Linked DNA regions of Homo sapiens: region 2 is linked to region 1. Evidence: fine-mapped expression QTL. A gene starts in region 1. The other region holds a variant in brackets. All regions are shown on one strand. Distances are from middle to middle. Region 1 holds the start of PAWR (pro-apoptotic WT1 regulator). Region 2 overlaps PAWR (pro-apoptotic WT1 regulator).

Region 1 (15,673 bases):
TTCTGGAAAAGAGGCAAAGCAGACAGAGCATTTTGCACTAAGTATGTGACATTACATAAATGTTTAAAGTACTTTGAATTTCCAAGTAGCTCAACCTGTCTGTTAAAATATGCACAGTTTTAAATTGGAAGAAAAAAATGAAAATGTTTAACAACCTCATAGGAAATTAACCTATACAGTAACTACAATTTCTGATTTGGGCATTTTTATAACATTTTCACAAACATCATTTTATTTAATTCATGTAACAATCCTGTTAGATAACCAGCATTCATTTCATTTGACGGATCAGTAAACTAGTACAGGGTATTTAAGTTAGTTCTTCCCAAACTTTAGTGTGTACCAAAATCACTCAAGTTAAAATGCAGACTCTCAGATAACATCCCTAACCCAGACTGGGGTGGATTCCAGAAATCTGATTTTAAATAAATGGCAAAAGTGATACTGGTAGAGATGGTCCCCCCAGAAACATCTTTTAGGACACTGATTCTAGTACTGTAACTAAAGTGGTAAGCAGTGGAAACTCCTTTTTTTTTTTTTTTTAACTCTGAATCAATGTTCCCAAATGTTTAGATGACAGAGCTTTGCAGATCTCCATGAAAGATATGTAAAAGTTTTATTAAGGTGAAAGTATTACACTCAGTTAAATTGTTAGGTTTTTGCAAAAGTAATCCAACTATTAGGCTGGTGCCATTACTTTCAATGGCAAAAACTGTGATTACTTTTGCACAAACCTAATAAATACCTATTATACTAAACTCCACTGCAAACAAATGGTAGTAGGTGCCCAAGTTTTAAGAAACTTAAAATTGAGGAGATCCTACCATAATTTCATTTTCTCTGTAAAGTGGGAAAGGCTGATATTAAATTATTTTAAGTTAATGGCTTCTCATAATTTGAATACCATATCACTTTACTGAAAGGAAAGCTAAAATTTAGGGACCAGAGGTTCTAAGAACATAATGAAAAATAAAGATGAAAATATAAAAGCACTTAAGAGCACACCGTGTGAATACTAAAAAACCACTGAACTGTACACTTTAAAAGGGTAAATTTTATTGTATGTGAATTATATCTCAATTTTTAAAAAAGGAAAAAAAGCACAGAGAAAATGTCAAACCCTAATATTTGCCAATAATTTTATACTTATAAAACATTATATCAACCTTGCTATTAAATGGCATAATTATTTTCTGGCACACATCATAGGTGCTAAAAAAAAAATGCAGAAATAATAAATAGCATAGATAGGCTTGGTACGGTAGCTCCCACCTGTAATCCAAGCACTTTGGGAGGCTGAGGCGGGTAGATCACTTGAGGCTGGAAGTTTGAGAGCAGCCTGGCCAACATGGCGAAACACCATCTCTACTAAAAATACAAAAATTAGCCAGGCATGGTGGTGCACACCTGCAGTCCCAGCTACTTGGGAGACTGACGCAGGAGAATTGCTTGAACCCGGGAGGTGGAGGCTGCAGTGAGCTGAGATCACACCACATGCCACTGTACTCCAGCCTGGGCAACAGAGCAAGACTCCACCTCAAAAAAAAAAGAAAGAAAGAAAAAAACAAAGAAAATAGTATAAACAGGCCACTAGCTTGATAATGATTTTAAATAAGAATTTTAATGCCAGTGTTTATATATTCATTTGTTCTCAAAATTTTCCATTAAAGTCTCACTTCATCTATGTTCTATAAATAGGGCTATTTTTAAATTCCATAGTCATATACTAACAATTTAACACTAAAATATTCTTTGTATTTCTTAAACTAGGTATACAGTATGTAATACACTGAAGTGTAGTAAGATGGTTTATTACGCACAAGACTGTGAGTGCAAACTATCTCTAATCTACTTCTCACTACATGTATGACCTGAAGCAAGTAACATACCTTCTCTTCCCCATTTTCCCATAGGGCTGTGGTGAGAATTAAATGCACTAATGTATGTCAAGTGCTTAGAACAGTGCCTGGCACTTAATAAGCACACCATAAATGTCATCTACTTTAATTATGTAATTATTATTTTTATGAGAAATGACATCCCAGCTCAGACAACTCAGTACAAATCCTGATAATATTAAAATTTCAATTTACTTTACCAGTGAGCTCAAACATTTAGGAAAGCTGGGCTAATAGCCCAGGTTTTACACTAAACAGTCTCAGTGTTTACACTATATCTACCCCATTCACGAATCAAATTTTCTCCAACTCTGAGTCATTATTAGTTTCTCTCCTGACTCATCACACAGAAAGGTAGACAGTCTGGAGCATAATGGGAATAACAAAAGGCATTTCTTAATCCACCTGGATTTATAAAGTTTACTAAGTGGAACTTGTCCTATATATAATGTTCAATAAACATACTAAATAATTATGACCTAACCTGTGTTCACTTAAAAGTGCTTTCTATATGTTAAATGCTCCTTTATCTTCCCTTTCACCAACACGAGTTCAAACTATGGAGTAGGTGTCATGACCCCATCTTGATAGAAAAACAATATATCACTTAGGTAAAATCAAAGATTCACATTTTCTGACCACTAGCCAAAAATAAATTTACGTTTTGCCGAGAGCCTGGTGTTCAAAATTTTGCCACTCTATAGGTTAGAGGGTCAGAGGCAATCTCTGAGTCCACAAATTTGACCTGAAATTCTATTCAATTCCATACCTTTACTGTTTTCCTCATTCAGATGTTTAAATTACTTAAGATAATCTTTAATAAAAAGTTATGTAAAAATCTAGGGAAATATGCTGAATAATGAAAAGTAGGTTAATTTTTAAAAACTCCCCTTTCCCTAGATATATACATACACACAAAATACACAAAAATGTTTAAAATATTGCTCTATCAGTTACTTTCTATGTGATCTTGAATCATTTAAGCTCTAAGTCTTCATTTTCTCCTCTGGAAATAGTGATAAACAGTGTAACTACCACATGAGATTGCTGTGAACTTCAGTACATAAAGCACTTTAGCCAACCACTAAAGCTAAACCACTTTAGCCAACCACTATTTTAAAACAGAAGTTTTAAATACTGTATATGTTAACTTTTATACTTAAACCAAAACTTCAGTGCCACCTCTACCTATTCAAAGATTACATTTTCTATGGCACCCATCTCCATTAACCCATTCACACAACCCTACTCAATGGCAGTAACTTCACAAACCCCCTGGAAACAAGTATGTAACTGTCTAGGAAGCTTTCTTCAACTATCACTCCTCCTCCCTGGGTTAGGTACCCTGCTCAGGCACTAAGCTATACTTACTACTCTACTTTTCACATTTCCTTATATTACCTGAGAGCACCTCGTGGGCAAGGCTTATGTCCTATTCATTTCTATACCCAGACTGCAGTCCAACAGTTGTTATCACTGACTCACATTTGAATCAAATGGGGAACTTATAAAAATATTAATGCCTGGGATCCATCCCAGACCCATTCAATATTACAGGGTGGGGTGAAGGGACAAAGAGGGCACGGAATTGAATTAGCATGAGCAAACATTTTTTTAAAGATCCTAACATGCTATCAATGTGCTGCTCAAGTTAAGAACCACTGCATGTCGGTACTTAATATACTATACAAACAATTATGTATACATGTACATATGTGAGAACATATGTAAAAATATACAAGTACTGAAAAGTTTAAGACTCAGGTCAAGATTCTCATCCTCAATAGCTTCTCCCAGCCCAATCATCTCCCCCTTTTAAACACACACTATTTCCAATAAATAGTTACATGCTTCATTAAGATGGCTTTTAAACTGTTAACTCAGTACTTAAATTTTTTCATGTAATTATGCCTTATCCTTCTTCCTAGATTATAGCCTTGCTCCTTGAGAATATACACTGCCGTGTTCTTATTTTCTCCACTGCTTAAGGATAGTGTCTTTAACAGGTATGTAATACACATTTGACTGATCTGATAAACACACACAAAAATTACTGGCAAGAAGTATGCCACGTCCAAATTACCCAGTTCAGGTGAATTACTACCAAAAAATAGAAAATGTAAAAATTTAGAAAAAAGGATATTTTTCTTAAAACTCTTAGTAAATTTTATCTCATTAAAGAAGCTCTGGATAGATCGACTTCAGCCATCACATGCAGTAACCACCCAGTTTCCTACCTCCCAAATAGCTAGTTTCGGTTTTTGACCTGGTTCCTTGCCTATAACTATCTTCTAGTCAATTCTGGTATCTTTAGCTGCTGTCAGATACCTTTATAACAGTATTATATATACACTCTATAACTAGTAAAGTGAGGTAATGAAAGTCACAATAAATGTATCACACAGATGTTTCATAAGTACTTCCTTGAAGGAACTTAATGTTTATCCACCATTAAAACCAGATCTCTACATATGAACTACATGTTAATCTACTAATACAGACTTGGTTGGGAATCATGTCTGAAAATAAGAGTCTTACTCGACATTAGATAAAATAAAGTCTACTTTTGAATATAAAGAGATTGGTCATTTTCATCTTTTTACTTATTTTCATACCCGAAAAATTTGCAAAATATGTATGACTTTTTAAAACAGGGGTGCTAAATTAAATATTACACAAGAAACTCCACAGCAACTGGTATTCTCAATGTTGAAACTACCAGGAGAAATGGCACAATTCTAAAAAAGCAACAATATAAACACATGAAAATGGCTCAGCTTTAAAGTTTTGCATCATATATTTTACCACTATTAAAATAATCTGAAATACATAAGTTGTTTTGAAAAATAAGAAAATATGAGGAGGAGGCGCTCAAGAAGTATGTCTGTTAATTAGATACTGTAGTGAAGCATTACTGTTTTGTTGGGTCCTGCAGCTTGAAACGGACAGAGACATAGTTACCACTAAAAGAAAGCAGTCCTCAATTCCCTATTCAATAAAAAGGTTCAAACTCTACAGACAAAAAAAAAGGTACCCTTGGTTTGTTTGTTTTCAGGGAAGATTAAATTTAGGAGTTGCCAACACCCAAACGAAAAACATTCCAGAGTATTAGACTCCATTGTAGTGGGAAGTCATCTACATTCTCAGCACTATGTTCTCTTACTCAAAGCAGGGGTATTAACAAAAGATGTTTCTTAGGATCTCACAAGATACACTCTACTTACTTCCCCCAGTAAACATTACCCTTGTTTAAAAAAAAAAAAAGTACTTGAAAAATAATTTTAGCACATGCAGCCAGAAAAAAAGTGAAGTTTAACATCTGCCAAGATATTTCCCAAAATAAGACCGCTGTCAGATGAACAATGAGGAAAAGATTGAAAATGACAAATTCTTTTATTTGGATCATCAGCTACTTTTAAAAATCAAGTTGAGGAATGTAGCTTTTCCAAAGCCTTGTCTTCAATTTCCCCTTAATCTTCATATTTTTAACTAAAAAAAAAAAAAAAAAAAACACCTAGAAATTTGATTACCACTCTTACGAATTCCTTCTAAAGCAATTTAATGAATAACAGATCTTTTGTGCAAGTAGCAAACCGCAGAGGACAGTTTTGCTGGCTGATAAAAATCTCTGAAACGCTCATATAAATACGTCCTACAAAGACACACTATGATTTAACAGGTATGGAAATCATAATACTAAAAATTTAGGTATATTTAATATACACCCTAACTTATTGCAAATGCTTCTACTTAAACCACAATTAAAGTTGAGTAAAATTAGAAAGCCAGGAGAAGAAAAAGTGAAAGCTAAACAGTCAATGAGAAAAAGATGCAACTATTTTAGGTGAAACAAGGTAGTTGAACCACTTCCTCAAATCCATGAGCTACTATCAAAGTAATCAAAACTTGTTTGAGATTGTTTTGTCTTGTTTCTGGTAGAGGGAGGTGTGATTATACACTTAGTAAAAATGTTTTACCAGTCACTCTAATGGAAGATGCTGCTACCTGTAACGTTTCGAAAATGCTCCAAACTGCAAACAACCCAAAACAAACAAAAACCCTACCACATGTTTTTCAGACACAGTACTCAAAAAGAGATCGTCTTAGCGAACAGAATTGTGGGTTACTAAATCATCCCTATTGTCCTAAGTATCACTCAGAAAAACACTGTGTGTTTAGGAGCACAACTTATAAACAGCTGATTTATATATAAAATAGTGCACGTATTCATTTGGATATACTCATCTTGAGCTCACTGTAAGATAAAGCTGTCTTGGATATTGCTAAGGCAACATTTTCTTTACAGATGTTATTAAACATTGGTAAGAAAGGAGAAATAAACTGGTAACTTCACATGGGCACGTGAGACCCTAGAGAATGTCGTCACCATTAATCAATTTTTCTAACTGATCAAGCATAAACAGCCAAGTCCAGGTGGCCAAGTCAGCCAAGTCCAGGTGGGCAAGTCCTGGAGCCATAAGTTGTCTTTCTACCACGGTAAAAAAGGATCCTGGATCTGAGACCTGGCCAGGAAGCCTGAAAAGCACGTGTCCTACTCTGAGTTTGGGGAACTTCCCAGGAAGCATTTGTTCAGAGTAAAACTCCATCACCCCCTGCCTGCCTAACTCGGTGAAGGGACAAGTACGAGCCAGGGGAGGTAAACTCTGCGCCCCGGGTAGCTCCCAGGAGGAAGACACCGGGAGGCAGCTGCCCGCCCCGGCCCGGTCCGGCTGCGGCCCCCGCCCGGCTCACCTCTGCGGCAGGGATGTTGACCACGCCGGTGGAGCGCCGCTTCTCCCGCAGCTTCCTCTTCTCGATCTGCCCCTTGCCTTTCCTGGCACTGGGGCCCGAGCTCTTGCCCTTCTCTGGGACGCCGTCCGGCTCCTCCTCGTCACGCTGGGGCGGCGGTGCAGCCGAGGCAGAGGCGGCTGGGGGCTCGTCCTCCGACCGCCGCGGGCCGGGGGCCGCCCGCGTCAGCATGGCGGAGCCGACCGCGCAGTTCACGCCCCCGGGACCGGGGACGGCAGGTGCGGCCGGCGCGCCGCCCGGGAGGTTGTTGTTGAGCTCGTTGGCAGCGGCGGCCGCCGGGGTGCCCAGAGCCCCCGCGGGGGGCTTCCCAGCGGCGTCGCTGCTGCCCCCTCCCGGGGGGGCCGGGCCCGGGGGGTTCTGCTTGGCGCGCATCTTCTCGCGTTTCGCCTTCCACTCCTCCAGGAAGTCTGTGGTGCTGCCGCCGAGGCCGCTGCTGGTCCGGTAGCCACCGGTCGCCATATTCCCAAAGGGGCCGGTCGGGCTCTCACCTCAGGCCGCCCACCAGGGCTCCGGCCGCTGCCTCCTCTTCCTTCCTGCGGCCCCGAGGATGCCAGGAGACGACCTCCAGGAGAGGGACGGCCGCCGCTCCCACAGCAGCCGGCGGGGCTGAGGTGAAAGACAAAAGGGGGCGGGTAAGGGAAGCGTAAGATCCCCGCCCGACCCAAGGGTCTGCCCCCGGGCTGCGCCCCTTGGAGTCCTCGAGCGCGCCCACCAGTCACTACCGGCCAGCAGCCGCCGGGTCCCCACCCTGCAAAGTTTCTCCCACGCACCTACAGTACGGACCCCGACGATCGCCGCCCCTAGAAGGGAGGAGAGAGGACTGACCCCACCCCCAAGTCGGCCCGCCCGCCCCATCCCCACCAAGGTCCGCGCCGGCGGCGGTCGAGATACTAGGGCTAGACCCGCCACCTGTCGGCTCGTCGTATCGCCTGCTCCGCGCTCTAGCCACCGCCGGTCCGAGGTCCCCGTCAGCTACAACCCCACTCCCAAGGCGAGGCGCGGAGCTCCTAGCCGGTTCGCAGAGGAGGCGGGGACCCAGCTGTCCCGCCGAGCGTGGAAAGGACCGGGTGTGAGCGAGCGCCTTACCTTGGAGGAGCTTGTAGGGGACGAGGCGTAGGGCTGGGATCCGGCTCCCAGGTGTGCCGAAGCTGGCGCGCGCTCTTCCGCCGCGCGGAAAGTGCCGCGGCAAACTCGCGGTGCGGAGCTCCAGGCAATCCCAGGACAGGAGGGAGGGAGAAGAAGGAGGGAGGGAGGGAGGGAGGGAGCCAGGGGCGGGAAGGGAGCCGAGCGGCGCCGAAGCACGAGCGGAAAAGGCCGAGGCGGCGCGCGAGGGGCGCGGCGCGCGGTGGGAAGGGTCGTGGCCGCTGACGCCCCGCCCCCGGCGCTCAGGTGCGCGGCGTCGCGTCCGGCCCGCCGCTGCAGCCTGCCCTGCGCCAGCCGTCCTCTGCCCCGCTCCCGCCGCAGACCACAGCGCGCCCGCCGCGCTCCGCCCGCGGCCTGCGAGTTAGACGGCACATTCCTGGGCTAGCAGCTTCGCGGCGTCCGGCCTCCCGGCGCCTCCGACTCCGGGGCGGGAACGGCACTCCACGCCCTTCTTGCTTGTCTTCTCCGCCTCTCTCTTCTCCCACCACTCTTCCTTTTAAGTACAAGACCGTATTATTTGAGAGAAAGTCTCGAACGCTGCTGGCTAAGGGGAAAAGTGCGATAACTTGTGATGATTCAGGGAATGACTAGACAGGATGGGAAAATACCCACGTGTCTCTTTTCCTAGTCGCTGCTCCCTTTTCAGATGTACTAGGGCAGCGGGCAGGAGAATAGAAAGACCTGAGACAAACCCAGCACCCTCCTTCTAAGAAAACTGCGGTGCCCTGGTGAAAAGGGTTGGCTAAGAGGAAGGACTTACTAGTATCTTAGGGTTGCGGGAGAAAAAACTCAGTTCGACAGTTTATTGTATTGGCGATTCCAGTCTTGGAGTTTTCCCCTTAACCCTGTCTCTGCCTCTCCTCTTTACAGAGAATGAATTTAGCAGCAAAGCTCCCTACCAAAGTACTAACGCTGCACTGATGCTAATTTGAGATGAGCTGGGGCAGTGATTGTCTCTATTTTTTCATTATTAACATGCCAGAGGCTTATCCTCTGATGCAAGTCATCTGAAATTTCTGGATCAGAGCGGGGTGGGCTGTCACTGACGCACCTAAGACTGACCTTTCTATATCCAAGTAATGTCAGGGCACATCATTGTGGGAGGCTACAAATGCCAGGTCTCCATTTTGTAAAAAAGTAGGAGAGCCCTAAGTCACGCTCTTACCTAACATAAACCTTTCTTCCTACTTAATATTCCTGTTTTGCCCAGGTAGCACATGATGAGTGAGCAATCAGTGTTTGCCTGCCACAGAACTGGGAACAGAAGAAAGTGATTCACATGCTCTATATTTCTCAGGGAAAGACAGTTTTGGTCTTTGGTCTGGCTGTTGTGGGAAACGTATGGCGAGAGCTCTGGAAAAATCCTTAGAAAATTAAAAGCTTTTGTTGGGAATAGGTCTAAAAGGCTGAGCGGCTGTTTACCTAAGCTAGTACCAACCCCAGTGTGCCACCTGAAGTTTCTCAATTACATATTCATTAGTTTGTTTTCTGAGTTTTAAGGAGAGTAAGGGAGGCTGGGACATTAAACGTATTCACATTCATATGCTTTGTAACTTATCAGAGGACTTTTCTCCTGGAAGGGCTGCAGGATATAGTGGAAAGAGGGTATAGTCAGCTAGCTGAGAGATCTTGGGCATGTTTACATTATCTGGTACTCAGCTTTCTGTACTATAAAATCAGCAAAAATTACATTTTTTTTTTTTTTGAGGCGGAGTCTCGCTCTGTCGCCAGGCTGGAGTGCAGTGGCGGGATCTCAGCTCACTGCAACCTCCGCCTCCTGAGTTCAAGCAATTCTCCTGCTCTCAGCCTCCCAATTACATTATATTTAAGCTGTCTTAAGAACTGACACTGCACATAAAATGTGCTTGATTCGAGGAAGGCACTCAGTAAACATAGTCCCTTCTAGGGGCTTAAAGTCCTTGGTCTCTAAGAAGTGTATGGGAGAAGAGGAAATTATAACAGATGGGGTATTGAATATACAATATCAGCCTAAAAACGATAGACTTTGAATGAACTAGGATAACACCCCACATAAATTTATCACTGCATGGCTTAGACCAGTTCTCTTAGTGTTAATAGGTTCTGAGTCAGGAATTTTGGCTGCTACTGACTTGTGTGGCTTTGGGCAAGTTGCTTAACTTTTGTGCCTCTGTTTACTTACATATAAAATGGGGATAATAATACTTCCTGCATCGTGAGAGTGTTGTGAAAGTGCCTGCAGTCCTTAGATAAAAGGTGGTATGTGAGTACCAGAGTAGGTATTATTAGTCTATAAAGTGCCCTAGGAACCATGGATGAAAGAGATTATTGAGGTACAAAGCTCTGTGTTTTGTTATTATTATCATTTATTATACCTTTTGTCTTTACCATTCTCAATATTCCCGAAGATATATTTCACAGCCAGACTGCTTCCAACATTGCACCGAGGTATTTAGCTGAGTCAGTCCTAAATTGCAAGATGTTTGCATATCATCAATCTTTATGTATAGCGTTCTGATGAAATAATCCTCAAAGACTTGGAGCTTGGTTTCTCAACCTCAGCACTGTTACATTTGGGGCTGGATAATTCTTTGCTGTCCTGCCCATTGTAGGTTGTTTAGCAGCATCGTTGGCTTCTACCTATTAGATACCAATAAGAAACCCCCACCTGTATTGTGACATTGCCACATGGTCCCTGGGATAAAATTCTTCCCCGGTTGAGCACCTCTGAGTTAGCCTAAAATAACCAATTTTTAGCGACTCACTTGCCCTTAATAATAAAATGAAATATGATGATAATGCTGACAAAAACAGATTCATTTAAATATGTCAGAGTGAAACCTAGATGTTAGTCTTAATGATTTTGAGGAAGTGTATTATTATATGTATGGATAGCTAGTGTATTGGGAAGTAGCCATTTTGCCTTCAATGCAGGTATTTCTGGAACATATGCAATTCATCCTCTAACATCAAAATATTATATGTGCATAGGATAAAAAAATTACATACTTTAGTTCTACAAGGATTATAACAAAAAACAGCAATCCCCTCTCTACCTTATCCATTCTGAAAACCCTACCCAAAACTTTGAACTTTTTAACTGTTTCCATTAATAGAGATCTTCATATTTATTTTTTATGTGCATATCTGCTATTGTACATCTTGATTTTTCCATTTTTAGATATAGAAGAGGATTTAGCTCTAATACACTAATAACACATATACTTTTCTTTTCTTTTTCTTTTTTTTTTCTTTTTTTTTGAGATGGAGTCTCGCTCTGTCTCCCAGGCTGGAGTGCAGTGGCGCGATCTCGGCTCACTGCAAGCTCCGCCTCCCGGGTTCACGCCATTCTCCTGCCTCAGCCTCCTGAGTAGCTGGGACTACAGGTGGCTGCCACCACGCCCGGCTAATTTTTTTTTTTTTTTTTTTTTTTTTTTGCATTTTTAGTAGAGACGGGGTTTCACTGTGTTAGCCAGGATGATCTCGATCTCCTGACCTCGTGATCCACCCGCCTCGGCCTCCCAAAGTTCTGGGATTACAGGCATGAGCCACCATGCCCGGCCACACATATACTTTTCATACTCCTACACGCCCGTAGTATTATGACTATACAAATACTGTTCATAGCTGAGTCATGTGGTGTATATGATTGCATTTCTTTTTTTTTACAACTGTTTTTCCTTGTTGCACAACTATACCTTTTGTCTTTACCATTTTTCTGCAGTTAAAACTTGCCTCTTTTTTTTTCTTTAATCATCGGCTTATTTTTTTATATACCAGTCACAAGTATATACTCAAATTTTCCTCCTCTCAATGACGTTAATCACATTGGGTAAGCTATCAGTTCTATTCTCTTTTTGGAAACATCTGTTCTGGAGCCCTCCATCCCCTGCTTTAATATGGATTGATTTTGTTTGTTTGTTTGGAGACGGAGTCTCGCTCTGTTGGTGAGGCTGTAGTGCAGTGGCGCAGTCTTGGCTCACTGCAACCTCCGCCTCCTGGGTTCAAGCAATTCTCCTGCATCAGCCTCCAGAGTAGCTGGGAATACAGGCACATGCCACCACGCCCAGCTAATTTTTTGTATTTTAGTAGAGACGGGGGTTTCACCATGTTGCCCAGACTGGTCTCGAACTTCTGAGCTCAGGCAACCAGCCTGCTTTGGCCTCCCAAAGTGCTGGGATTACAGGTGTGAGCCACCGCACCTGGCCTAATCTGGACTGATTTTAAGGCTCGTTGCTTGTGGTCATCCTGGGATTATGCTCCTCTAACACCTTGAGAATCATTTTCTCTGTAGACTTCTTGTTTCCTGAATTGCATACTTTTCTCTTTTTGTTTCTCCCCTTCATTTTAGCAGAGTATATCCTCAGTATATTCTGAAGATAGTATAACTCATTCTTAGAGACCTTGCATATTGGAAAATGTTTTAAATTTATCTTCATACTTGATTAATAGTTTGGTGGAGCATAGAACTCTAGGTTAGAAAGCATTTTCCTTCATAATTTTGAAGGCATTGCTTTATTATCATCTAGTTTCCAGAGTTGCTGTTTAGAAGACCAGTGGCATTCTGATTGCATTGTATTTTCTGTCTCAAAATTTTTGGATCTTCTTACTTAGATCCTCTGAAATATCTTGAAGATATGCTCTGATTTGGTCTTTTATCATTATTATGTTATGCAGTCAGTGGACCCTTTTAATCAGCTATCTGCCTTCCAGTTAGGAAATTTTCTTATCCTCTTTCTTTTTCTTTGACATGGAGTCTCGCTCTGTCGCCCAGGTCAGAGTGCAGTGGCCTGATCTAGGCTCACAGCAACCTTCACCTTTCGGGTTCAAGCGATTCTCCTGCCTCAGCCTCCTGAGTAGCTGGGATTACAGGCACACACGCCTGGTTAATTTTTGTATTTTTAGTAGAGACGGGGCTTCACCATGTTGGTCAGGTTGGTCTTGAACTCCTGACCTCATGATCCACCTGCCTCAGCCTCCCAAAATGCTGGGATTAGAGGCGTGAGCCACCGTGCCTGGCCTATTCTCTTTCTTTTATAAGACTTTCCTTCTACTTTCTCTGTTCCTGCCTTCTGGAATTCCTGTTAAGTAGGTGTTGGAATGCTAGAAGTTCTCTAACAAATTTTTTCTCTTTTCTCTTTTATTTTTCATTTCCTTGGCATGTTATTCTACTTTTAGTGAAATTTCCTTCACTTTGTATGCCAGTTCTTCTATAGAATTTTCTGTTTCGGACACTATTTCTAATATCTCTTTCTTGTTCTCTAAATATTTTTTTCTGTAGCATCTTGGTCTTATGATACATATTGAGCATTTTGTCCTCTAAGCAAATTGCCTACATTTTTTGTTTGTTTTAATCTTCATCTTTCATGTTAGAGCACTTCCTCATCAGTTTATTCATATTTAAGACTGAAGCACTGCAAAGCTGATTGAAAGCTCTTATGTGAAAAGGAAGACCTTGTTGGACTGATGGGCCTCATTTAGGGAGCCGGTGTTTGGCCGCAGACATTTTCTGGAGGCATGTGTCAAATTCAGCATCTATGGAGCTTCTCTTTTGGCCCAATAATTTTCCTTGAGTAAAACTATTTCTGCTTGTGTTGTCAGTTGCCAATTTTTTCAGGTGCCAAGTAGGGAAAGAAGACTGGAGGAGTCTCATTACTCAATACGCAGGTTTTCACTTAATCCCTATACTTAGTATATCTGACGTACCCAATTTCAGTGCGTTTGTAATTCAACATCTGTACAATGTGAAAACTTCCAGTCCTCTGCCAGGATCAGGAGAGATAGTCTCCTTGCTACTGAGCCCTGCAGAAGGGATTTGAGAATCTAACTGTTCCTTGTGTAGATTTTCAACTAATCCTTCTGTTTTCATCCCCATCCTTCACTCTGTTTCAGAGGTATATGCTGCTGCCTCCAATTCTGAACCTTTCTTCAGGGATCTGCAGGACAAAAAAAGATTACTTCTTATTGGCTTTGTCTCTTGCAGGTTGTTAGAATTTACCTTACTCTGCTCTGCTAAAGCCTGTCTGCTTTCTATCTTTCATCTTCCAAAATTTTGTTCTTACTGTTCATCCTCTTTGTTGTTACTGGTTTATCATTTTACTTTGGTTTTAGTGAAGTTACTTGAGGAAGTAAAGATAAACACGTGTGTTCAGCCTGTTATATTTAATAGGAAGTCCAATTCATCTGTTTTGCAGATTTCTAGATACTTTGCAATCTACTCCATAAGTCCAGATCAGCAGAGACGTCTACATCTTATTTCTGTCCTCAGTGATTTACATCATAAGCCCATATTGATTGACACTATAAGAAAGAGCTCTAAAAATTTGTTTTATTTTCTGTAGGCTTTTTTTGAAGGTGTGGCCCATTATATTACATATATTCCTATTATCAAAAACCTAGAAAACATTTCTGACATCCATATTAAGAATAGATGTGGTTCTCTTTTGGAACTTTTTTTAACCATATAGTAAAACTATTTTTCATATAGCTAGTGAATATTCTGTTTTCAATTGCCTGTAGGTAATCTTAGACCAGATTTTTGGCCTATCCAGGGAAGACCTAGATTTTATGGTGCCTGAAGCTTACATAATTTGGTGGACTTTCTATAAGAAAAATAATCCGTAAGAAAATAAATATTTAGAATAAGTGAGAAATTTTTTTAAATTACAAATTTTAACAAATTGAAAAATGCCATAAATATCACAAAAATCCAGGAAAAAACCCTATTCATTTACTCTCTGACATATTTCTATGCCATTTTGTATGCATTTTATTATTGATTTTATTACTTATTGATGCATAAAGTACATGTCTTTACATGCAGATATATCCACTATTTGTAGTACAAGTATATAGGTTTATGCATCACAAACACAAGAACTCTTATAAATTGTACATCAAAAAAAATCTACTTCAAAAAGGAAAATAATGTATAGGCCATTCATAATTTTATACTCAGCATTATATCATATATTCCAGATAGGAAAGAATATCTATTCCTGATAGGAAAGTATATCAAATGCCAATGAAAACCTAATTCTCTGCTTATTTTACATGTCTCATGATTGGAAGAATTTCCCACAGACTGGTTTTAGTGCCATCAGACTATACCACTCTCTACAAGGAGCAACTCATTGTTCCTGTTGTCAGCCTACTTCCAAGTCACTCTTACTTACTGAGGACTTTAACTGCTAGCTAACCTTCTTTCTCCCCACTCCTCTTTATGTCCAGTTCTTAGTGATAACATCTACAAAGATAATTTATCCAGTCTCCTGGCATCTCAGATACTTGACCTCCTCACTCCAAATAACATTTTTCCTCTTTACCCCCTCTTCAGCTAGATATCTCTTGACTTTGTCATCATCAATAAGTACATCTTCAAAATCTCAGTTCTGAACATTCCATTTTCAACCACTACCACCTAACTCTTCAGCACACTTCCTCTCATACCCCCACTCCAACCATTTTTTGATCTATTGATCCTACTAATTTTTCATTATCCTTCCTTTCCATGTCCTAACTTCCTTACTAGGCTTTAGTTCTAAAGTTTATAATTATTAGCCTCTTCTGTGTATACCTGCTCACCTAAAGAAAGATAGTTAAAAACACTATGGCATGCTTCCTAACCCAACTTTAATGCATGTCCATAGTCTTAACTAGGCAGTCCATACTATCTGGCAATCCTAGTAAGCTTGCTTTCCTGTACTCCAAAATGACTAGTTTATATCAGTCTTTTAAGCCTCCAATACCTCCTTATACCAACCTCACTCTCAGTTGATGAGCTTGCCTTCACACTTCACTGACTCTAAAATAGCACCACTCAGAGTAGGGCTTATCTGCCCAAG
Region 2 (15,673 bases), 99 kb before region 1:
GGACGATTAACTGTGATAAATGCACAGTATTAATGTATGATGTTAGTAGGAGAAACTTGGTGTGGTGGCATATGAGAACCCTCTGTACTATCTTCACAATAACTTTATAAATCTAAAACTGTTCTCAAGTTTGTAAAAAGTAAACAGGAGTAGCTTATTTATTTATATAAAAAATGATCTTGAATCGATAAAGAGTCAATTTTATCTTTACTCATCAGGATGCAACACTGTGATTTCTCCACACTGATCAATTAGCTCAAAAGTGCTATTCATTTTCTGAGCTCACAGAAAGTATATTTTGAAGATTCAGGCTCCTCAGGGACCACCCATACAAAACACATACAAAACAAATTGTATAACTGATGAAACATACATTTATTTTTTCCAATCAAGTCTTAAAAGTTTGATGAAAGCGCATTATTGTTACCAAAAGTCTTCAGGCAATAACAGAGATAAAACTTAACACAGACAAACAATGATTTTATTCCATAGTCTCTTGGACTTGAGAATCCATTTGAGTTTCAGAAAGAATACTAAATTAATGGGGGTTATGTCAGGATGCCAATGTCCATGCTGAGGCTTCTCCTGATACAATCTTTTGCAACATAACCAACAAAGATCAGGAGCTTAAAACAAAACAAAACAAAAACAAACAAAAAACAAGTTCATGTTATTTCTACAATGTCCAAAAAGAAAGACCAAGATCTTTGCTTAAAAATAGAAATGCATACTGCAGTGGCTCAAAAACTTAGGCCTGCATCAAAATTACATGAAGCGCTTGTTAAAACAGATTGAGCCCCATCTGCAAAGTTTGTGACTCAAGTGTTGGGTGGGGCCAAATAATTTGTATTTCTAACAGGTTTCTAAGTGAAGTCAATGCTACTGGTGTCAGAAACACACTTTAAGAACCACTGGCAAAACATTTAATAAGACAATTCCATGATAAAAGTATATCATAACATAAAACCACAAAACTTTGGACTCAAAGACTAGCTTTGTGATACAATGTCACCTTACCAATCTGTACACTCCACAAGTTTTTAAAAATTAAACAATATATAAAGCACCTAACACAGCCTGGCACATACGGCTACTGAATTACTAATGAATGTTATTATGCTATCATAAGTTATGGTTAAAGTTATGCTCAAATTGTTACCTGAGATGCTTTGCTTCATTGAAACTATATTGATTATTTTTATTTTTGAGGTAGAGTCTTGCTCTGTCACCCAGGCTGGAGTGCAGTGGTGTGATCTTGGCTCACTGCAGTCTCGACCTCCCAGGCTCAAGCAATCCTTCCCCCTCAGCCTACCAAGCAGCTGGGACTACAGGTGCATGCCATCTTGCCCAGCTCATTTATTTTTTTGTATAGACGGCATAACCCTGTGTTACCCCGTTGGTATTACAGGCATGAGCCACTGCACCTAGCCAGGCATATTGGTTTTAAAAGGGTTACAAGAAACAAGATGCACTTTTAGGCCTCCTATAATCCTGCATTTCCAAAGCATCCATTTAGTCATCTCATCAAAATTTTCATTGATTTAAATAAGTTAATATGAACAGACTGACATAATTTTACTTTAATGATGTTGTTTATTGTCCTAAGCCATCCATACACAAAACGTTTAATGTGTTATGGAAGGCTAACAGTTTTTCAGCTTTTCTCAATACTTTCAGCCATCCATACATAAAATGTTTAATGTGTTATGGAAGGCTAACAGTTTTTCAACTTTTCTCAATACTATCAGATGAATGTATTCTTACCAATCATGATTTACGTTTTTCAAATGTGGATTTCTTAGGCCTTTGACTGATAGCTTTAGGCTTTTGCACTACACAAAGAAAAAGACACCTTTCTATTCATTTCTTAATAATTTGTTTCCATAAAGCTAAAATGTCCACTGATGACATAATCTACCTTTGGTTAATCACAGCAAATAGTTCACATTTTAAAGGAATGCAGATATTTGGATAGAAGCCTCTAACAATGTAAATATTGTGCATTTCAAGTTCCATAGTGTGTCTAACCAGGGATAGCAACTGATTATATGTGGATTAACAATAGTGAATAACTGAGCACATATTAACATGAATAACATACACAGCAGTCAAAACTTACTGTTTTTCATATGTGTAAAGTAAAAATTCAATCTATCTTTAACCGGCTCATACTGTTTTCATGTTGTTCAACTATTTGACACAAAAGGAGCTTTTTCCTTTCTTTAAAAGGATTTTGATTCAGTCATAACAGATTTTTGAAAGTGACAGTAAAATTATGCATTTGGTCCAGGATTAAGAGGGAAGTTTTGCTTGCTAGTGTCTATCTGGTTAGACATCAGAATAAAATGAATGGACTGTAAAGGATCTTATAACCAGTCTCTCTCTTTAATATGAAGGCCCAACATTACATAATTCTTTTTAAGAGTTGACCAGGAATGAAATGTAACCTCTTTTAAAGATGAAGAAAAACTGAAAAAATGAGATTAAGAAAATATGTGGGTAGTTTACAGCTGCTGATAGAATTGTGTGCACGCGTGCATGCATGCATAAACACAAAGTGAATCTAGAAGGGAAAAAATTGAGTTTGATGAAGTCTAAGATGAAAGGTTCCATTTCATGTAAGATTATGTGACCTTGGAAAAATTTACTGGCTTGCTAGTGGAATACGTCCTTATATAGGGACTTGAAGAGTTTATCTAAATAGACTGACTTAAGGATGCTTTTCCTCTTGTTAGACTTGTATGACATTACTGAGAAGATTTAGAGTTCTAGAAGTAGAGAAGACTGATTAGCTTGTGCCTGTGTATGAAGAATGACAAATTAAGACAAAAGGTTATGTAAACCATTTACTAAAAAAGTCTAAATTTTTATATTCCTAGGCCCCTACTTATCTTTTACAAACTTTGAAGGACCTGAAATTCTTTGGACACCATCAGATTTAGTTTATAAGAGTTCTGATTTTGAATCAAGAAATTATTCATGTAGTTTTAAAACACAATTAAAATTTTCAGTCAGGCTGAACTTTTGTGCACTTCCTCATTTATTCGAGAAACCCCACCACTAATGTATTTAGACCTTAATATGATGGCTTTGAGTCTTAAATCATTGTCCACCTAAAATAATATACCAAATAAAGATTTTTAAAGTGCTGCATATGGTTTCTGTAAGAGGTACATAATTAGATTACCAGCATTATCCTTTAGCTTCAAAAGTAAAACTCATAGTCAGGATTTTACTGATAGTACAGGAAGAAAAAAAATAACCACTGTTGAAAAATAAATGAAAAAAATTTTATTGAGTATTACTTTATACATGCAAATTGAAAGTGAATCTATATTAAGTTGACTATTCCACAATAAAAACCTATGAAATGGGAATGATCAAAGCTGTCTAACACAATACTAATGTGTTCAATAAATTATCCAGATGTTTTTCCACAAATATTTGGATTACCTGAATTAGCTGATTCTTCAGCAAAAGTTAAATTTTAGCTTTAATATGGTAGCAGCAGGATGCTACTTAAATTTAGAAGAAAAACATAAGAATAAAAACCCTGAATAGCATAGCCAAATCTTCCAAGAAATAAGTTCACCAAAAAAGTAGCATACACCTATTTGGTATCCAGAGGAGGAAACAAAACACAGGCACTTAATCAACATCCACCAAGTGATCATCACTAACATTCTATTATTACCAGAGTAACTGTCGATATGTGAACTGTAGATTAGAACAGACTTACATATCTAAAAACAAACCAGTAATCAATAATATATACAGAAATACTAACTTGAAGTCACATTTAAATACCATCAACAGTTTGGTGTATCTGATATAACTGAATTCATTTCATCACTGCTATAAATTCCTTAAAAGTGTTCTTTTCCTAATTAACATTATCTTTAAAAAATGGTAGATATTTCCCAGTATGCATCAGTTTTTTCACTCCACCATTCAGTAAATGTTGTAGCAAATTAAATAGAACCTATTAACTAGATCTAAAAACAGTGGCTGAATACTTAACACAAAGAAGTACTTTTGAGTAAACTATTCAGATTAGACAGGCTAATGCTAAGACTGCATTTTGTGCTACTGACATGCACTATATAGATCGTACACTACTAGATGGAAAGTTGGTCCATGTCCATTTATTTAAAGATTCTGTAACACCTGTAATAGTATTTAATACAGCTCCCACATACTATATTCCTCTCACATAGACATAGTTATTTTTAGTGGGGATAAGGATATGACTTTAACATGCTATGAGATTCTAGCTAAGTAAAATAAAAACAATATGGACTCAGATTTTCTTAGGAGATATTAGTTCAAGTTTTTAAACTGGGAAACAATCAACTTCCATATATCCAGGAGAAACTTAGCATGGGGGGAGGTGCCTTAGTTGATGTGCCTGATAAGCAAACTGTTAGTTGTCTATTAGTATTATGTTTTCGGCTTAATGTAACAACAAAAGAAAGTTGTCACACTACCTCTCAGATAATATCAATTACAATCTTAGAGACTGTAATTGGGAATACAATCCTATAACAAGTTATTAACAATATCATGAATAGTTATTAAGTAAGTGCCAGCACTACATGCAACTTACTGGTCACCAACTCAGAACCCATAAAACTATACACATATGCACAAAAAAAAAACTCCAAAGAAAGATACCTATCACTGTACATATGAATACTGTCCAGGATATCAGATCAATTATCAAATCCAAGGTCTCTGCTGTTTTGTCTTACAGTGTTGAATATATGAATGCTTCTCTATTACACTGACTTGTACTATTTTCAAGAAATTAAGTGGATTCAAAATCTTACATTTTTATTTCTAATTATAAAATCCAGATTAATCCAAAAAACACAAACCACATGTAACCGAGGTAGGTTTTTCACCTTAAGAATACATTGCTTCTACCACAATTAAAAATTTTTTAAACTGAAGAAAAAAAAAAACTACATTGCTCCACATACCTGATACTTAATTTTCTATGTTTGAAACTACTTGAACAAGTGTGACAGTGCTAATCTACTATATTTAGTAAATCCCTTAGTACCTATAAATACACACCCAAAAGCCCTTCCCTCCTTCTCTAATGGTAACTGTTGTATAATAAAATTGTCAACAACTCTAGAAAGATGAAATAAAGATTACTATAGCAATCTTCAATTAATTCATTTCAGAAATCAAGGAGGCAAGTCATGTTCATTTTAAAGATGACAAACTTACTATTTTGAAAATGAGCTCATAAATACATTAGAACTTTGAATGTGCTTTATTATGCCACAAATTCCCAGGAGATTTAAGAAATAGTATTTCTGAACAGGAATAATAATTTCACAAATACTAACACTTTATTGACAATAGACAAGTCTTTTAGGGTAGTGCACATGTACTTAAAAACTACCTTCTACCAATCTCAACACTTTTTATAAATTTTCAGGTGAAACTGTAGCAGATCCTACTTTATTTTTCAATGGTTAGTGTAAAATTCTGTATGTAAAATAAGTACATATTTTGAGATGGAAGAAGGACTGCATGTGAAATGCTTTGCCTAAGTTGTAAGGCTCCTGTCTTTACGCTATCATTAAAGGCCAAAAAAATCACTGCTAGAAATGTTCCCCAAAAAATTCTTAAACAGCTCAGTCTTTAAAAGTATTAATAATTTTTTTTTTTTTTTTTTTGGAGACAGAGTTTCGCTCTTCTTGCCCAGGCTGGAGTACAATGGCGCAATCTCAGCTCACCGCAACCTCTGTCTCCTGGGTTTTCAAGCGATTCTCCTGCCTCAGCCTCCTGAGTAGCCAGGATTACAGGCATGCGCCACCACACCTGGCTAATTTTGTATTTTTAGTAGAGACGGGGTTTCTCCATGTTGGTCAAGCTGGTCTCAAACTCCCGAACTCTGGTAATCCACCCGCCTTGGCCTCCCAAAGTGCTGGGATTACAGGCATGAGCCACTGCACCCAGCCTAATAACTGATATAATTTTTTTAAGTGAAATGAAATGTTCCTTTATTTACATATGAATTAAATAGAAAATTCAAAGTAATTCTTTTAATAAAAACCCATATACTAATATATTTTAAGGTTGGATACTAACAGCATTTTCACAAGATCCAAAGTGTGGATGACGAACTAGGCAATAAGGACATGTGTGCCACATAACTAAGGGTAACTAAAGGAAGATGAGTACCTCACAACCAAAAGCAGTTAACTATGCCTGGCATACCACCCTGTCATGTGGGCAGATCACTGTTCCCATGCTGGGTAAGAGTCTCCAAGAAGGGAAGCCCTTATGCAGTAATTCTGTAACTATATTAAATTTGGTAATCTAACATTAAACTTTTTCGTGAGCAGTGAATATACACATGGTCATATGAAAACTGCCCTGGAGACCGGGTTAATTATTAAATAAACTAAAAGGGGAGAAATGCTGATAGATAAAATTATGTCAATTCCAGGGTGTTCAATGGAATAAAGAAACAGCAGCAGCTGCTTCAAAAGTAGACTATGATCAGAAACCTCAGATGGTAACCTTTAAAAATTGTGGAATCCAGAGTCTCAACCTAAACCTACATAGGAGCTACAGCCAGGGAGTTCTTTCTAAGTTCCTCAAGTGATTCTGATGATTGGCCAAGCTGGAAACTTCTGAACTGGGGGAGAAAGCCAACCTAGGTAAATGTAGAGACTTTTAGAATTCAACATTTGATTATCATTTACTCCACATTTTCCCCCAGCTGTCTCACCTTCTCTATTTTTCTAACAGTGAACAATAAAAGGGCTTGGCAAGTGAAGGAAAAAGTCAGTAGAGTACCTAAAATGGATTTGACTATATTCAAGCCACTTTCATATATTAACTAGATAAAAGGATACCATACTGCTATTTGAAATTCAATCACAAAGCAAAAATGTCATAATTTTAATGTATTTTAAGGGAAGACGGGGTTCTTAACATGAATATGTAATACAAAAACAATTCTAAATAATAATATTTAATAGAAGAAAAAATCTGTATAATTATTTAGAAGTAACTCTGTTTTTAAAATTTCAATGTTAGGAAGAAAATCCCTTAAATTTGAAATAGCGGAATATTCTCTCATATGAAAAAACTGTGTCCCAGTGTTATTCTTCAACTTAGAAATTAGGCAAAGTATTTTAGTACTATTTCTGCTTACATATTGTTTTGTATGAATGTTTTAAGTATGAATAATATTTTGGTTTTTAGTGTGCATGCTAATATAAAAATATGGATTTTTTTCTCCTACACTGACTTTGTACACTTTCCAGGCCCGAAGAATAAAAAACTTTTAAAATATCCTGTGTTCACTAGCAAACCTTGGAACGATAAAAAAAGGTAGTACCTACATAAGAAATTTTACATTGAAATTACAATTGTATGTTTTTCAGGAGTTAAAGTGATTCAATTTTTCAATATTCAAACACAAAATAGTAAATTTTTATTTACTATAGCACAATTCAAGTATTCTCTTAAATTTATATTTAGTCAACTAAAACATGACAGTGACTTTATAAGAGCTTTCCTTTTAAAAGGTTGCTGTTATAAAAAAGTATGACTCTATTACTCTAAATGCTTAGAATAAGTGGAAAGAACAAATGACAGTAGACAAAAACCTTTATGAGTGAGTCATCAACACATAAAAGGTTGCACACATCAGTAATAGGACATGTGAAGGTAACATCCCAAAAGTATTTGAACTCATGTAAACAAAGACTATGTATATTCCTAAGGGAGAAAATGTACTACCAAGATAAAATATATTCAAACGGCTGTGACTTTAAACCATGTATTAGTTGAATACCACACAAAACCAAAAAGGCATTATCTATCATTTAATAACTGAAAGATATTACTTATTTGTGAGATAAAAGGATAATGCTTTTTTAAAACCAATAATGAAAAAGAAGTATTTTGAAAACAAACATCTGTTTGCTAGAAATAAATATACTTGCTTAGTTATTTTAATGTATTGCAGCATAGGAATATTGTGCTAGCATTGACCATTAACATTCAATCAGTAGTTTAAAATATTTTTTCCACATTGAGTCTTGAATCCTCTACCTGGTCAGCTGACC[C/A]ACAACTTTCAAAAGAGTTTTATTTTCCTGCTTTAGCTGTTCATTTTCATCTTCTATGTCATCTAGGTCCTTAAGAAAAAAAAAAGACACTTTAAAAATACTTAAAAATATTTGAGGAGAGATGAAAACACTTAATACACATTAAAAATAATTCATACAACCAATTAATTTTGAAATGAGGGCAAGCTCTGAAAACAACTTTAGATGTAATATGCCCCACCAAAAAAGAGCATCCATTACTTGACTCTTCGTTCTTACAACAAGTGTATAGGCCAACTCTTACAGATCTTTCAGTTTTTCAAAGGAAGCCGAAAGTCAGAATTTTAAAATTGTGAATCTTCCAATTTTCAATCATCATAAATAAGTTAGTTTTTTAGCTAAACAAACTCCACTTCCCCTCCCTAAAACTGAGGCAAAAAAAAAAACTACCCATGCAAGCCATATATGGTATTGAGCCCTAGGTTGCAACCTTGTGTCAAATTAGTCATCAAAAGGTGCAGGTACAAGTTCTAGATGCACTCCTACCACTGTCTGATCTTTAAAGGTGTACAATGGGGATAACACTCTGGAGAGGTGACAAAACTGAGGCCTACGGAAAAGGGGATCTGGAGTATCTTGATCTGGATCAATTTTGTTTTCAGCTCCAGATCAATTTGTATGTTGGACTTTTCTACGACATTTTGAAGGAAAGGTTTTAGAGCTAAAATTAATTCAAAGCCACTAAATTAAGTATTCGCTCTCCAGCTTTAAAAGCATATGATCCAGCTCTTTTTTCCCTGTATTAATCCTTGTCCCAAACACACAACCATCTGGTTAAAACAAATTCACCATAAGTTTTAGTTACAAGAAACATTATTTCAAGACAGACTCTTTACTGTTAAAAAAGCAGACATTTATAGATTTATTCTTGCAGTTTAAAATAATAAATCTTGATGTAATCAATTTGAATCACTTGAACCCGGGGGGTGGAGGTTGCAGTGAGCTGAGATCGCGCCACTGAACTCCAGCCTGGGCAACAGAGAGAGACTCCTTCTCAAAAAATAATAATAATAATAATAAAGAGTACCAATTTTAGGGTTTTTTTTTTTTTTTTTTGAGACAGAGTCTTACTCTTGCTGCCCAGGCTGGAGTGCAGCAGCGCAATCTTGGCTCACTGCAACCTCCGCCTCCTGGGATCAAGCAATTCTCCTGCCTCAACCTTCTGAGTAGCTGAGATTACAGGTGCCCACCACCATGCCCAGCTAATTTTTCATATTTTTAGTAGAGTCGGGGTTTTACCATGTTGGCCAGGCTGGTCTCGAACTCCTGACTTCACGTGATCCGCCCTCCTCGGCCTCCCAAAGTGCTGAGATTACAGGTGTGAGCCACAGCGCCTGGCCAATTTTAGATATTTCTTGAGGCAACTCTGTGCCAGTGCCCTTACATATGGTAGTGACAAAGCGCCTGTCACCCTCAGATTTTAACAAAACAGAGAACAAATCCATAAATCAGTCTATCTCCAAAAGAATAAAATTAAGTGAGCTAAACTGATAACTGCCCAAAGGAAATCAGTTTTTGGAAGAAAATGATACCTCTTACTAATTATTATTTCACTAACAAAAGAACAAAGTGAATAATGCAATTAATAATTTCTTCATATTTATATATTTTCATCCAATTGCCAAAAAAAACCCCTCCAAACCTGAAATATGGTGAAATACTTACTCTATTTAATAAATCAATTTCTTCTTTGAGTTTTCCAATCATTTCCTCTTTATCTTGCATCAGTCTCACAAGTCTTAGGTTTTCTTGTCTTTCTCTTACTACTTCCTGGTAGATACAATTAAAAACCAGTAATTAGGAAGTAATTGTTTATTTATAATCTTCCTAAGTGGCATATATCTCCCCAATTTGGTAAAATATCTTACATACATGAAGATTTCCAATGAATCCCTTAAGACATTTGGTGAAGGAACAAAGATCCCACCACAAAAGGAATCAGAGAATGCACAGGAGATATTAGGATGCTCCTGAGTAAAGCTATGTTTATACAAGTCTTTAACAAAACTAATGTAATAGACTCAATGATTTAACCTCGTGTGTGTGTGTGTGTGTGTGTGTGTGTATGTATGTATGGCAGTGTTTCACTCTTGTCACCCAGGCTGGAGTGCAATGGCACCTTGGCTCACTGCAACCTCCACCTCCTGGGTTCAAGCGATTCTCCTGCCTCAGCCTCCCAAGTAGCTGGAATTACAGGTGCATGCCACCATGCCTGGGTAATTTTCATATTTTTAGTACAGATGGGGCTTTGCCATGTTGCCCAGGCTGGTCTCGAACTCCTGACCTCAAGTGATCTGCCCGCCTCAGCCTACCAAAGTGCTGGGATTACAAGCGTGAGCCACTGTGCCCGGCCTGTGATTTAACTTATTTAGCTTATCACCACTATAAGTTATGAACTACCTTATTTTTTAATGGGTATCTTGTTTGAAATAATTCAAAATTAATTTTTCTTAAAAATACAAAGTTTAAAGGAGATGGCCCAATAGAAACTCTAAACAGAAAAACAATGGTCCTCAGTTTTACTTCTGGCTCTGCCAGTTAACTGATAATGGATAAAAAGAAGGAACTAAAATAGATTACTGATTTTTAATTTTTTTTTTCTTTAAACAATGCAACATCTTTTTCAAAGACATCTTATTTAGAATCCAGGGCACTGGGCTTGGTCAGCCACCTTGGGGGCAAAAGGGAAGCAGAGCTCAAAAGGCCTTGCCCAGAACTTGGCTTCTTTCTTACTAAACCTCCTACAGAGCAATCAACCATCCATATCCCTTAGCTGCTGCCAACTACTAGCAATTCAATCCAAACTCTTGTGGAACTCACGAAGCCTTTCTGGGCAACTATCTTCAAAACTATTAGATTACATATTGTCTAAACTTTTTAATTTAAAATTATGAAATAATAGGCTGGGCACAGTGGCTCACGCCTGTAATTCCAGCACTTTAGGAAGCCGAGGCGGGTGGATCACCTGAGGTTAGGAATTCAAGACCAGCCTGACCAACATGGTGAAACCCCTTCTCTACTAAAAATACAAAAAAAGAATTAGCCGGGCTTGGTGGTGCATGCCTGTAATCCCAGTTACTTGGAAGGCTGAGGCAGAAGAAACACTTGAACCTGGGAAGTGGAGGTTGCAGTGAGCCGATACTGAGCCATTGTACTCCAGCTTAGGCAACAAGAGCGAAACTCTGTCTCAAAACTAAATAAATAAATAAAAATAAATAAAACTATGAAATAATAATTCCAAGAAGAAACTGTTGTTAAAGCTTAGAAATGTGACCTCAAAAAATCATAAATGTTATAAAATAGAAACAAGTTTTAAAAATGAAATTTCTTTACATAACATATATAAATTAGATCTTTAATAATATAGAGAATAATCTCAAGTAAAACAAAACACATTTTCAACAATTACAAAAGTATTCAACACCATTGCTAATTTTAGGGGTTGAATGTCTATGGCACAAACCTGAGACCCTATGGTTAATAAATTTATGCCAAGAGTCATCTGACTTGCACTGAAAGACACTTTTAAACAGGCATATTCTTAGACAAAATTGTTTCAAACACCAAAGATGGACCTAACTCAGATTTACTCCTGTAATTTGTAAAGTTACAAATGAAAATCTATTCAGACAATATAATAAATACACAGTAGTATATATTTGCCAGCTCAGACTTCTAACCACTTCAAAAACAAGGGCTTTTAATATACTAAAGGTAACAGTTGGCAGAAAAGCGCACATATTAAATATTAAGGAATATTATTTCCTTTCTCACTCAGTTGCTATGAAACAAAAGAATTCTAATGGTATATTAATTTTATCAATCTTAAATAACTTATAATCCATACCTTTTCAAGATCTTCAATTTTCTTTTCCAGTGTGCTACTTGAAACCAGAGTACCTGAAACATTTGCATCCCTGTTATATCTAGGGAACCCACTTCTATCTGTTCGAGAATATCTACTTGAGACATCTTCTTCAGAGACACTGGTTGTGCTGTGGAAATATAAACATTTTATTAAAATCCCTAGTATTCAGCAAGAAAAATGCCAAGAATATTTTCTATTGAGCTTAAAAAAATTAACATTCCCCAAGGACATATGGTTATAGTAGCAACTTATTTGTAACTGTAGAAGTTAATCATTATTCCCACACAATGAAAAAAATGTAAAAGTACCATTAATTCTTTCGACCAATATCTACTGAATAGGTGTTAAGTAACGAACACTGTTCTGGATACTGAAGACGTAACAGCAAACACAAACATGGACTCTGCCCTTCATAGAGCTTTTGGTTAAAAGGGAATATAACTAATAATAAAGCAAGATGATCAGTAAAATAAGGTCAGTGATGGATACTATGAGAACTACGATAGGACAGATCTCCCAGATTATCTTTTTTTTTTTTTTTTTTGAGATGGGGTCTCACTCTTGTCACCCAGACTGGAGTGCAGTGGTGCAATCACAGCTCACTGTGGCTTCGGCTTCCTGGGCTCAAGAGATCCTCCCACCTCAGCTTCCTGAGTAGCTGGGACTACACGTATGTGGCCACCACACCGGGCAAATTATTTTGTATTTCTTTTTTCAGAGACGGGGTTTCACCATGTTGCCCAGGCTGGTCTCAAACTCTTGGGCTCAAGCGATCCACCCACCTCGGCCTCCCAAAGTGCTAGGATTACAGATGTGAGCATTGTGCCTGGCCTAGATCGCCCAGACTATGTGTGGTGAAAAACCACTTTCCTTCTTCAAAATTACAATCTTTCATGGACCAACACTTTTAAAAAGTAAAATTAAAATGAACTGCTGGAAAAATAAAAGTTAAAAAGGTCATACAAAATACAAGTCCAAATGTTTTATTAGATTCAGACCCATAAAATTATAAATAGAAAAAAAGAAAAGAGTTACATCAGTGGCAAATTCTCCACTATAAGTATGCATACAGGCAATCAATACAGAAAATTGCTACCATATTGATAATTTTGTTATGCCATAATTCTAACTTAATCAAAAGTTGTAAGTAAAACAGCAATTCCTTAAACACCAGTTCATACCCTCTGAACAGCACATATGTCAGTATTTAAAGTTTTTAATGTAACAAATGAGTTTGCTTCTTGTTTCCTGTATTATTCTATTAAAAATTACCCCCAAACTTACACACAATTCTTATCTCAAAGTTTCCGTTGGTCAGGAATTTAGAAGCAGCTTAGGTGGGTGATTATGATTCGGGGCTTCTCATGAGTTTTTAATCAAGATGTTGGTTGGGGCTTCAGTCATCTGAAGGCTTAACTGGGCTGGAGAATCTGCTTCTAGGCTCACTCACATGACTGATGACAACAGCCTCAGTTCCTCACTATGTTGGCCTCTCCACTGGCCTGTTCACCACATGGCAGCTGGCTTCCAGAGACAAACTGACAGAGCAACTGAGACAGAAGCTGCAGTGTCGGTCATAACGCAACCTCAAAAGTGACATACTATCACACTGACCTTATTCTATTGTTCACACATATCAACTTGGTATGTTGTGTGAGAGGATTATACACAGTGCAAACATCAGGAGGTAGGGTTCACTGGGGGCTATCTTGAAAGCCAGTTACTACATTTGTTAATCTAGGTTGGACCGAGGACAATGCTACTCAACAAGGGATAATGTATATCTAAACTATTTCTGTGTTTTGTTTTAATAGCAATCAGAGAAAACAGTCTCAAAGGACAGAAATAGCAGTGATTTTAATGCAATTTCAACAAGCTCGGACATTCATTTTTAAAAACTTTTGTCAAAAATGTAGAAAATTTGCTTTTCAAAATTTGTTTTCAATCCTTCACTGACTGGTATCCATTTCCAATAATTTATCCAGCAAATTTACAGTTAAATCGAAAGTGACTTCTCGTTTTAAAAATTGATTCCTCATCTATGAATTTCTTACCTATGAATTTTCTTGTGATAGAAAATAAAAGTGTCCTATCAAATTTGTAAGGTATTTGATTGTAACCTTTTCAAATGTGCAATACCAAGATCACCATCTACTTTACTGATAGTTGTTACTATATCGTAGAACCCTTTATAACCAGCTAAGGTAACTTTCTCCTCAAAAATCCAACTTTCATTTTTGTCACCTGATCTTATCTGCCATTGAAAAGCCTTCTGGCTCACTGCAACCTCCGCCTCCTGGGTTCAAGCGATCCTCCTGCCTCAGCCTCCTGAGTAGCTGGGATTACAGGCGCCTGCCACCATGCCCGGCTAATTTTTGTATTTTTAGTAGAGACAGGGTTTCACCATGTTGGCCAGGCTGGCCTTGAGCTCCTGACCTCGTGATCCACCTGCCCCGGCCTCCCAAAGTGCAGGGATTACAGGCATGAGCCACTGCGCCCGGCCAACTGACATTCCTTCTTTGCATGGAAAGCTAAGATCACTTAAAAAATAAAGAATAAGGCCATCAGACAAAAAGCTAACTCACATATTTGAAAAGCTGGGGACCAAACTGGTTTCTTGTCTTGCAAAAACACCAAGAGTTCATCCCAAAATTCAAATACTCTTGACTGAAAAGGTCAGTTTGAAGACCAATGTACACCCTAGCATCTGATAACAGCTGATCAGCTAACTCCCAAACTACAGTATCTAATTTTTTAGAAACCTCAAATGTAATGAATTAGTGTTTAATAATAAATTCACACTTTTAGTGTACTATACTGTGAATTCAGCTGATATAGCAAGAACACTGTTTAGTTCAGCTGGCAAAGCAAGACTTTCTCAATGAAAGAAGCAGGACACCGATTTACATTCTGGTACAAGCTTCAGTATGTTTTTCTTATTACTGTGCCTGCATAATTAGAATATATTCCTATAAAAGTAAAGCAAAACTCCAAACCACATTTGTTGATACTGTAACCCTTTGCAAGTGTTATATAGTTCAGAGCAAGCTGTATGTCAGCAATGAAGCTGAAAAATAAATTGTTACTTCCTATGTTAGCAAAACCAATGTGTTCATCAAATTGTAACAAAAATTCCTTTGCAGGATCTTATTTGTCTGAGAGTTAGTCTTCGTATCACTGTCCTGTCCCTAAACACATCAAGCTATCATGGTGTTGCTGGAAAGTGGTATGTGAACTATCTTCTTTACTACAGATTCATCCAACATTTCCAAGCAAACATGTTTTGTCTTGTCATTTGTATGCAGTTTTTTTTAATGTTAGCAACCTCAAGTCAGACTATCAGAAACCCCAAAAATACTAGTGATCACATGTGAAATCCTGAACATCTGCTCCGGTCATCTTTGTAATATTCTTTCAAATAATGAATTTGGTTTTGAACATATTTGATGAATTCATTTTGTACATGTCATGCCTGCAACTACCAATTAAATTTTGATCATTTTATATTGTTTAAATAGCCAGTGTATCTCCAAACAACCCACTTTGGTTTTGGTTTTAGCACTTCGCCCATCAATTATGGCTAAAAACTAAACATAGGACACATAATACTTTCCAAGAAAACTAGTACAAATTCTTTTGATCTGTATCTCTTTGAAATTACTTC

What was found. PIP is the estimated chance that this variant, and not a neighbour inherited with it, causes the effect.
Region 2: its variant is fine-mapped to the expression of PAWR in whole blood (TOPMed, PIP above 0.99).

What each region holds. Positions count from the first base shown.
Region 1 is chr12:79,683,079-79,698,751 of GRCh38, forward strand. PAWR (pro-apoptotic WT1 regulator) reads right to left here and starts at 7,886. Exons shown (of 7, transcript NM_002583.4): 1 at 7,794-7,886; 2 at 6,651-7,313. The coding sequence starts at 7,166. It overlaps PPP1R12A-AS2 (PPP1R12A antisense RNA 2), which reads left to right and starts at 6,954. Exons shown (of 7, transcript NR_187531.1): 1 at 6,954-7,318. RefSeq lists silencers at 6,594-7,113, 7,884-8,183.
Region 2 is chr12:79,584,523-79,600,195 of GRCh38, forward strand. PAWR (pro-apoptotic WT1 regulator) reads right to left here. Exons shown (of 7, transcript NM_002583.4): 5 at 11,989-12,136; 6 at 9,807-9,911; 7 at 357-8,171. The coding sequence ends at 8,085. Among named protein-coding and RNA genes, the nearest start is that of PPP1R12A-AS2, 98 kb to the right of the region's middle. The variant C/A (reference allele first, on the strand shown) is at 8,103.